2 separate regions of the Homo sapiens genome follow, and region 2 is linked to region 1. Evidence: fine-mapped expression QTL. A gene starts in region 1. The other region holds a variant in brackets. All regions are shown on one strand. Distances are between the middles of the regions.

The links. PIP is the estimated chance that this variant, and not a neighbour inherited with it, causes the effect.
Region 2: its variant is the best candidate, but not a certain one, in a credible set for the expression of TPRG1-AS1 in whole blood (INTERVAL, PIP 0.58).

Annotation. Positions count from the first base shown.
Region 1 is chr3:188,944,697-188,950,077 of GRCh38, forward strand. TPRG1-AS1 (TPRG1 antisense RNA 1) reads right to left here and starts at 2,943. Exons shown (of 2, transcript NR_046873.1): 1 at 2,583-2,943.
Region 2 is chr3:188,824,874-188,830,254 of GRCh38, forward strand. The region is part of intron 9 of LPP (LIM domain containing preferred translocation partner in lipoma); the gene reads left to right. Among named protein-coding and RNA genes, the nearest start is that of TPRG1-AS1, 120 kb to the right of the region's middle. The variant G/A (reference allele first, on the strand shown) is at 2,238.

The sequences.
Region 1 (5,381 bases):
CAACCTTCTTGGAGAAACCTTTGTCCACGTTTGGATCACTGTGGTGGTCCTCTTGGCCTTGGGGTCAAAGAAGCATTCACTTGCTCATCAAGTCTTTATCGAGCTCCTACTATGGATGTCACTGTGGTAAGCCCTGGGACAAGTAAGAAAGGAAAGGCTCCTGTTCCCATCTCTCATGGAGTTTATAGGCCAACGTAAAAGATGAAACACAAGTAAATACACAAATACAACATCTAGGAGGTGCTACAAAGGAGCTATGAAGCTACCCTAGCTTCTGCTGCCTCATAACTGGCCCCAGAGCAAAATTTCTCCACTCATTATCATCCTGAGACTGTAGCACATCTGCCCTCCATGTCATCAGAGAGACTCACCTGGCCCTGCTGAGCTTGCCCTGGCTCCCTGGGACACCTGGTCTCCTTGCTTAGCTCCCAGTGTGCTTTCTCATTCTGCCCCTGCTCATTCTCCGCCGGCACTATGTTCTCTGAATGCTGGCAAGCTTGCTGTTCTCTAAATCCTCCCTTTCTTTTCCTGCTTTTGGGTCTTTGCTCTTGCTGATCCCTTTATCAGGAACTTCCCTCACCTCTACCTCCACTTGTCCAAATGCTACCAATTCTTCCAGGATCTGTTCATGCTCCTTTACCCTCACTGCAGCCATCCTGAACCCTTCTCCCCACCTTGGGGAGTATCTGCTTGTTCTTCCCTGGTGCTCATGGCATTTGGTTTATTGTGCTAATCAGAGCGCTCATCATCCACTGACTGGTATTACACAGTTACTTGTGTATCTGTCCTAGGCCCTTACCTACTTATCTCCAACCTAAAGGCATGTCTATTATTTCTGCATCTCAAATAGAAGCAGACACAGTTAATGCAAAACCATATTATTGAATAAGTGCTCAGTAATGATGACTATTATGCACTTGAGACTGGAGACCTAGGACAGAGACAGGAGCATATCTGGATTTAAATCCCAGTTCTACTGTATGTTAGCTGTGTAACCCTGGGCAACTTTATTTATTAATAATAAAGTATGTGAGCAATCTTATATCACTGTACAGAGTGCTCATATATGTTATCCAGCTTAATTCCTAGAACAACCCTGTGTGAGAAGAACTACTGAGTGCTGACACTAGTCATAGTGCTAGACTCATAGCTGAATTCAGATTCCAAATTAAGTAGCCTGATTGTAGATACAACCATTCACATGCGAACATTTTGCTTTTTTCCTGGCTCAGCACTGCCAGTACTGCTTCTTTGAGGTACAATTATGCCCATTTTACAGATGAGAAAACTGAGACTTAGAAAGCTTAAATAATTTGTCAGTATTGTAAAACTACCTATCTTTGTTATCAGAGAAACATGACTGTGACCAACCTAGGTATATACAATTTTCCACAGCCATGTGAAAGTTTTATGACTCTTTAACATTTCTGGTTGTCTGCTATGCTCGGTGCATTGGGCTGGCTGGACCTTGTATATGTTGGGAAGAAGGAGGACTTACAAAGACTAAGATACAGTCTTTGCTTCCAAGAGGTAAATAAAAAACAACTAAAATATTCTATCATCCACACCTATTCCCTCTCCCTTCTTTTTTCAGCATGTTACTGGATGCTGCCTCTTTATCCATCTGCCCTGGTGGAGATCTTGAGGTTACAGGAATAGCCAAGAGAGACACAGGCAGAGTTAAGTCCAAAGCAGTCAGCAAAGGTGGGGAGACATAGATGGGTCCAGGTGGTAAGTAGGATTGGCCTTGTTATTGGAAGCTGAATGTAGTTACTGGACTTGGAGATTTCGGTTTCTAGAGAAGACAGCAGCTCTCCATGCCCAGTTTAATACTGTGGATTAGCGTGGGAGTGGCCCCAGACCCACAGGCAGAAAAGGCCAATGGTCAGAGTGGAGATCCTCAGGACACTCCAGGTGTCTGAGGGAACGTAGGTTTATCCCTCTTTATTACTAAGTGGATTGCTGCTCCCCCTTGCAGGCCAAAGCATGAATACTGGACATAGCCCACATCGAGGGTAGAGAACTTGGTTTTGGCTCTCAAGTCGACCACTCATCAGCAGATGACTGTGAGCAAGTCACTTCCTCCCTCCAAGACTCCATTTCTACAGGGATTCCATAAAATGGGCATAAGAATTTTCACTGTGCTCGTATGGACTGGATTAGGCCATCATGTGCATTAACACACTTGGCTGTGAGCACTAGGTGCAGCCAAGATGCTGATGGGAAAGAAAAGTCTAGGTTTTGCCCCCTGCGTCGTTCCTCGTGACAGGATTATGCTGAGGGAGGGCACATTAGATTGACTCACACATACTGAAATGGTCATAGTTATTGAGGTTACCCAGTTTCCAGGCCTGAACTAGTAAACCCAGCAATGAGAATCAGCCAGCATTAGCAAGTTTTCCGTGTGGGAGTGGGGTGGGGGTGGGGACTGGAGGGAGCAGGCGCTGAACCAGGAAAGGAGGAGGATGCTCATCATTGGCTAAAGATCCATGCCTGGAAATTAACGGCGTTAAAGTGAGACTTGCTTCAGGTTCCAACCCGGTAAGGCAAATGGAGAGGCTGTCAGGAGACCAGAAGTTTACCTCAGCTATTGCACCGACGCACCACGTGCTCTGGTGCACATCCACCGCCTCTTCCTGCCTCAGTTTCTCCTTTTGTAAAACAACAGCTTGTAAAGGCCTGGGGATCTTCTCATCCACGGGAGTTTTCTAAGGATGCAGGCGAAAGAGGTAGGAAAAGTACTCTGTCTCTGTCCTGGGTGTTCGGGATCAAGGCCTTTTGAACCAATTCCGGAATCCGCCACCGGGCGGTGGTAGGAGAGAGCCAGAGGATTCGTCAGTAAGTGTGCGTGCGTGACAGAGGGCTTTTAAATAGATCGCTTTGTATCTAGCACGGTAGCACCTGCTTCTAAGCTTCCAACGGCAGCTCGAGCAACGCGATCATTCAGAAGCGGCCGCTTTCCATTCACGTCTATAATTAGCGCGCAGGCTGCAGCTCAGGCTCGAGCTGCAAAGCGGGGCGGCGGCCTTGTGGGCGGGGCCACCACCTCCTAGCCCCGCCCCCTTCGAATTCCACCTTCCCAGCCCTTCCCAGCCAGGAGCCTCCTGCAGCCTCCTCCCCACCCCCACTGTCTGTCCTCGCCCTGGTTCTGGGCTTCGCTCTCGGCGCTCCAGGATTCCTGGACGACAGGGCCCAATCGTACCCTCACTCTGGGATCACTCTTGTGCAGTAAATAAGCACCTTGAAAGATGCATTCCAGGAGGGCAGCTATATTTAGAGTGGCATCCTCCTCTCCTCCCCGCACGCTCCTGCGTCCCGCCCTCTCCCCTCCCCGCCCCGCTCCCCGATGCCCCTCCCAGCCACCTCTCCCTCTTTGTCGCATTACATAGTAATCTGAGATGCACTGGATGTGCTCCAGGGAACAGAATGTACTTGGCAGAGACGCGGGGCTTGATGTCTGCAAAATGTCGGAAACGCAGCCAAGAGCTGCTAACTGGGTCATTAACCTCCAAAAGCAAAGCGAGGACTGTAAGGCCCGCTCTGCCTCCCTTCATCTCGCCAATAAAAGTGCCTCAGTGTGAGGGGGAAGAAAAAGCCCAAGGTTGACTGCTTTGATTTCTAGGCACCAAAGGCAGGCCCGTCCTCTCGTCCTGGCCCAGGCCCCAGCCCCTCCGGGCCAGCCCCTGCGCCACATCAGAGTTTACAAGTGACCTTTGAAAGGCTCAGCAACCCCGCAGGGCCATGCTTGCGCCTCAGCAAAGAAGTTACCCAGCAGCCGTTCCCTACCGCACAGCCTTGGACACATTTTCTTGGGTCCAGGAGGAGTTAAGGGAGTGGGGGTGAGTAGGGGTGAAAGGAGAAGGTTCCAGGTCCTTCACCTACAGTGAAGGGCTCTGCTGTCTCTCCCCTCCTCTGCTTCTCTCCCTCTTTTTCCTCCCCCTCCTCTTTCTTCTTTCTTGTCTTCCTCCTCTCCCTCTTCCACTTCTTTCTGAGAGCAGGCTTTGAGGTAGGTTCATGAATACATGGCCTGGGTCCAGGGGATTTGCATTCAAGCCGCTTGCAGCTCTGTTACTTGCTATGTGACCTTGGGTGAGTCACTCATTTCTCTGCTTTTAAATTCCCTTCTTCTCCATTGTTCACCACAATAACACCTTCCTGACATACATCACAAAACAGTGAGGCCAAATGAGAAAGTCTTTCCCTGACCGCCTTGTCTTTCACCCCTCTGAAAGCCCTGAGGTCCAAAGTGCCTCTGGCCTTGTGTGTACTCCTGGAAAATAGGAATACAAGTGGTCTCACCAGAAAGATTCAAACGTTTGAATGTTTTCAAGGGGATAGCCCCTAAAATCCACCCTCTTCAAGTTTTCTAGCCCTGTGAGGTTGCCAAACAGACACTTCCCCCTAATGCTCCAACCCACTTCTCCAGTGGCTAGAGAGAGAAAGTGACCGGTACAGAAACCAGAAGAGGTTGTGCAGTTCCTCAAATGAGACTCCCTTCCTTGTTGGAGGGAAGACAGTCAGCCTGGTAAGACTAGCAGCAGCCCACGAGATGTGGGTCTGAGCAGTCTCAACAAAAGTCCAGGATGAGGAGAATGGAGATTTGTGCAGCCATGCTGATAAGAGGAGGAAAGCTCGCTCCTGGTGCTCTCTAGGAAATTAGAACCAAGCCCAGCCTGGCATCAGCACCCTTCCTGCCTCATCTCTCGTTGGTCTTACCACTCCTTCCATGGCAGCCACATCAGATGGGTTCTGGCTGGTCGCGGTGCTCCATGGACGCCTCCTGCTTTCCTGCCACTTGGGCCTTGGCTGAGATGTCTTAAAAAATTTTTTAAACTCATCAGAATTTGATGGCCTCTATTTGGCCTATCTCTGCCACACATTCAAATCTTTCACATCCCTCAAAACCCAGCTTCAATGCCATCTCCTCTATTTAGATGTCACTTCTTTCTCTTTCAGTCTCAGTACACCCAGCCAGCCTTGGGTTATGCCATTTTTGTGCTTGCTAGATCCCTCTTATGCCATAGAGATTTCTCTGTGGATACAAACTCTGCTGTTGATCTCAATACTGATGGCTAAGGTATATCATAATACATCATAAATACATCCTGGTTTGCCATCTCAGTTTATGACTTTGTCTTGGTATAATATAAAATGTACCTTATGGCTAAGGTACATCATAAGGTACATCATAATACATCCTGATTTGCCATCTCAGTTTATGACTCTGTCTTGGTATAATTAGTTATTAATAGGTCCCTCCTTCACCTTGAAGTTTTTGGGTTTGGATGATAAATTATACAGTCACCTTACTGAGGGTCTCTATCCAAGTACATGGTACATTAGCAGGGGCTCAGTAAATGTGGCAAAGTACCTTAAAGGGC
Region 2 (5,381 bases), 120 kb before region 1:
TGATGACATACCAAGCTTTAGAATCCTCAAGTAGGGTGGGATATTGGTGCTGGGAATGACGAATGAAGGGACATCTGAGAATCATGCTGCTTTTATGGATTAGCAGAAATTCATCTTACGTGACCAAGAGCAGCTGCATAATGGCTAGAAAACATTTGCCCTTTCTGCTTATGTTTTGGTTATCCCAACACATTCTATGTGCAATGTCTGAGTTTGAAAGTTCTTTTTAAACTATAAAATCATTTCCCAAAGTTAGGACTGATTATGAATATCATCAATGATTGTTTTTAAATGTCATTATGGTAAAGTCATAGAATAGTGACCATCTGTGCTGCCTTTGTCTTTGTATAGGTGCAGTAGTCCCAGCCTTTCTTTCTCTCTCTCTCTCTCTCTCTCTGTGTGTGTGTGTGTGTGTGTGTGTGTGTGTGTGTGTGTGTGTGTGTAGGATCACTGGAGTATGGTGGTGAAGAAAGCTGTCACAGCACAGAAGTTCAGAAGGAGGTACTGTGAAGGTCCCAAAGCATTGAGCTTAGCTAGTTCTGAAAGCACTAAGGTTAACTAGTCAACTCGAGAGTTGGGTGTATATACTGCTAAGGAAGGGTTCAACCCAGGGGGCTCTTGCTCTCCCAAGACAGGAAACATGTATCTGAAGTGTGAATCTATTGCTATTATCCTCAGTTTGGCAGGCGACAGGGTTCTGAGAGTGAGAGAGTAATGGAATGTGTATGTCTCTGCTCTTGAAGATACCAGGGGCACCTCGAAAACTCCCCTCCCCAGCCCAGGGTCACCACAGCCTTAACCGACTGCCTCCTTTGCAAACCTTTACCATGGGTACCTAGAAAAAGACATACACACACACATTTCAGCTTATGGTTTTTGTTCGTTTGTTTTTGTTTTTTGTTTGTTTGTTTGTTTTGCCAGATACTTAAGATTTAAGGGCAATCTTAAGGGAAATCTCTTCTCCCATCTTGACTGAGGCACAGAGATGTCCTGTTCCCATGCTGTTGATGCTGACAGACGTAGGACACGTTTTTTTCTCCGTGTGCCACCACACTCAAGCAGAATGTATAAGATATTTTCTGTCTACCAAGGATACCTGGTGACATAATCATACCTAGCCTTTCTTTCCTCCCTCCGCCCCCTCAGCCTCTCACCCTGCCCTCCCATGGGTCTTTATGTGTGCTACTCTATGTAGAGTACAACTCATACCGGATAGCCTGTTACTTATTTTGGTTCAGGAGCAGCTGCAGAGGATGAACTGGAGAGGACAGTCTACTTGCAAACACTTGTAGACTCTCCAGTGGACAGGTTACCTCTAAAGAAAGAGAAGCCTACGCTTTCCTACTCACTGAAGTTTTTTACCATTTGCAAGTGGATCCAATATATGTTTGTTTTGGGTGAGGGGCTAACAAAATGCTCTGCGGTTTCTGCAGGTTTCCTTATAGGAGATCCTGTTATCCTCGTGTCGATTCTTGCCCCATTAGCTTTCAGCAGTAAATAGTTGAGGGTCTCATCTGGAAAGTTCTATTATTAGTACCACATGGTCAGTACATTTTAAGATAGACATTTTAATAGGCAGAAAACTGTATACAAGGAGAGATGTGCAATGCAGAATAACTATCAAATGATATCTAGATATCTTAGATTGCTACTCTAGGCCATCCATGGTCTTACCCCATGGGTTCCTCTAACTCCCTTCATCCTCCCTTAACATTAGCTGTAGGTTTTCTCATCACTGTCTTTGCTCACGTTATTTTCTCTGCCTTGAATTCCCTCCCTCAAGCTCCCCACACCAGCACCACCAGCATGTACCCTGTTCTTTAAGACTCAACTCAAATACCTCTGCCTCAAAAACATATTGCCCTAATTGTCCTGGCTGAAAGTGACAGTCATCTCTGGACCCCCCCCACTCTCATCTCTGCACCTCTCTATGTCATCCTTAATCACTTTCTGACTTGTGTTCTTACATAGTTGAATATGCCTTATCTCTACTACTTGATATTAAACTTCATAATGATGATAAGATCCTATCTTATCTTCTCCTGTCTCTTCCCTGATCAGGCCTAGGGTAGTTCCTCCCACACTGTACTGTTAAGAGAATACATAATGAAAAAGTAAATGAATAAATGGCAGAAACCTTATGTGGAATGCTGGTGCAAACAGTTCCTTTGACTGGGGGCTTTTAAAAAGAGACTGATTGTATAGGAGATCTGAGCAATTTTCATATTAATGGAATG[G/A]ATTATTAGAGCTGGCATGAACATCAAAAGAATCTAGCCACAACCACCTCTCAGGTCATCTTCATTTTCAAATGGGGAATCTAAGATTTAGATAGGACCATTCCAGATCACATAGTGAGTGATTAATAGACCTAGGACTCATACCTCATCTGACATCCAACACCACATGTTCTTTTGAAATAAGGCTGGAATAATAGTGAGACACACATATTAGACACATGATTGTGAGAAGACAGTTTTCCACCCCACAGCACATGACCCCATACGTTTAAGTCCCTGCCTATACAAATAGTACAGACAAAGTAACAGCAACTTTAGAGGGAAACATGACTATTTCCATCATATGGTGATTCTACAGAGCAGAATCAGAAACCTGGGTAAAGAGAAAAGTCCTACTCAGTTTCATTCTTGTTAAAAGACTTAATGACTGGAGTTCAAACTGGCGGAGTCATTGGCAGCATTAAAGAAGTGGGGTTGAAGCTGGGCAACATTTCCACAACAGGGAGTGGAACAGAGAGACAGAAAATATTGGGAGTCTTGTGCCCCATCAGTAGAAGGAGATGAAGGCCAGAGCCAAATGGTGGGGGCAGGGGTAGGGGGAAGATTCCTTTCTCCAGCATGTAACAGCATTATGGGAGTGAATTCAGAGCTTCTGTGTGTTCTGAGCCAAGTGCCTGCTGGAATGTGGACTGTAAATCTCTCATCGTCCTCTTCACTGACCCACAAGCAACCCCTGCTCCTCCCATCTGCTTCCCGACCACCTGCCTTTCAGTTTTTCTTTATATAAAAAACGTTTTCCATTCTCCTACCTTCCTCTCTGTCTACCTTTGTATGGTACATCTCATCCCTCTTCTAAATATTTCCATCTGACCACATTTTTCCCTAATGAGACAGGCTCACAATAGGATAAAGTGTAACATTTATTCATTTATCTGCTCAGCAAATATTATTGAGCACATACTGTGTCCTAGGCACCACTTTAGTTCTTGAGTGGTCAGCAGTAAAGAAAACAGACAAAAAAATAATACCCTGGTGGAGTTTCCATTCTAGTGGGGACACAATAAACAAAATAATTGGCAAATTATATAGAATATTGGAAGGAAGTACATGCTGGGAGAGAAATAAGCTGGGAGGGAAAAGGGAGTGCTGGGGGAGAAGGAGCTAAGAGTCTCAGTTCCAGAGTTAGGCAGCCTGAGCTGGAATTAGAACCCCAGCTGCATGCAGTGGCTCATGCCTGTAATCCCAGCACTTTGGGAGGCCGAGGTGGGCGGATCACCTGAGGTCAGGAGTTTGAGACTACCCTGGCCAACATGGTGAAACCCAGTCTCTACTAAAAATACAAAAAAAAAAAAAAATTAGCTGGGCATGGTGGCGGGCACCTGTAATCCTAGCTACTTGGGAGGCTGAGGCAGGAGAATTGCTTGAACTCGGGAGGTGGAGGTTTCAGAGAGCAGAGATCACGCCATTGCACTCTAGCCTGGCAACAAGAGCGAAACTCTGTCTCAAAAAAAAAAAAAAAAAAAAAAAAAACTCAGCTGCATCCTTCCCAGTCATGTGACCTGGGCAGGTTAAGAGAACTCCCTGAGCCTCAGTTTTCTTGTCTGTTTATCAAGAGTCATTAGGGAAACTAGTATCTCCTTGGGTTGTTGCAGGGATTCAATGAGATGACACATGTAACACAATCATTACCTCGGGCCTGTCTCCTATAAATATAGTGATTGTCACGTTTGTTATTTAAACAATATTATATATTGTGTTTTAGGTATTATGTATGTAATATATAGTGTGAATATATGTATGCGTTATGTATATAGCATTATCTGACTTCGTGCCTCTAGTATTACATGCTTCTCAAAATATCTATAGTTTTGTCGGTATTTCTTTCTCCTACTAGATTGTGATCTTTTATCGGCAAAGACCACCTCTCATTTATCTCTATACCCCCCATTGTGCCCAGCACATCAGAGATTTTATGTTTGGCTGCTGAATGAGAAACAAATGGGATACTGTTCTTCTAAGCACAATCATCTTATATTAGCATTCATTTTTGGAACTCTTCTCTAATTCCTGTCATTTTTGTATCACATCAGAAGAAGAGCTATATTCCCTCCACCGCCTCTCCTCGCCTATTAATCACCATACCTTCCCACCTCTTACGGGAATACCGAACTAATGGTCCTTGTCTCAATGACCTGCCTATCCTTTGTCCCTTCATGGGAATCTTCTCACAGATCAAGTTACTATGATCTACAAGGCCAGTTCCCATAGCCTCGTTCCACTTACACACGATCTTAACCATTTCTGTCCAGTGGGAGTCACCCACTCACCTCCTAAAACCTCTATGCATGCCCCATACCCCTAGTCATAATACTCTTATACAAATGTTTAACACTTTGCAGTTGAAGACCCAATGTCATACATCTTTTCATTTGATACTTAGAGTCACTGTGTGAGGTACAAACTTCAGATATTACCAGTTGCATGTTACTAATAAGGAATCAGAAGCTCAGAGAGGGGGAATGAAAGAATCCAAGTATATGTGGCTAAAATTGGCCACGTCGACACCTGAAATCCTATTATCTGGGGCAATATACATACTGGGTTTGAAAAAGTTCACACTTAGCAGTTGAATGACCTGAGTCCTCACCCCAGCTTGGCTACTTACTCACCATGTGACCCTGAATAGTGCCTTGAAGCCTCAGGGTTTTTTTACTTCTGTAAAACAGTAACTCTTGCCCTCCCGGACACATGGGATAGTTTGAAGATTAAAAGATACATTGGCTGGGCATGGTGGCTCACATCTATAATCCTAGCACTTTGAGAGACTGAGGCAGGTGGATCACTTCAGTCCAGGAGTTTCAGACCAGCGTGGACAACACAGTGAAGCCCCATCTCATTAAAAAAAAAAAAAAGATATATTAAGAAACTTTTGAAAGTATAAATCATCTAAATCATCATGTATAAATGTAAGAGATATGAAATAAGCTCTGTGAAAATATAATGGCTGATGGCGTCCCTGTGTGAAAGATAGAAATGGACATTTTATGTAATTTCCATACACACCAAACAAAACAAAAGATCTTTAGAATTTCCAAGCATGAGTGAGGTTTTACATTGATTGTAAAGAATATAGAATGCGGAAAC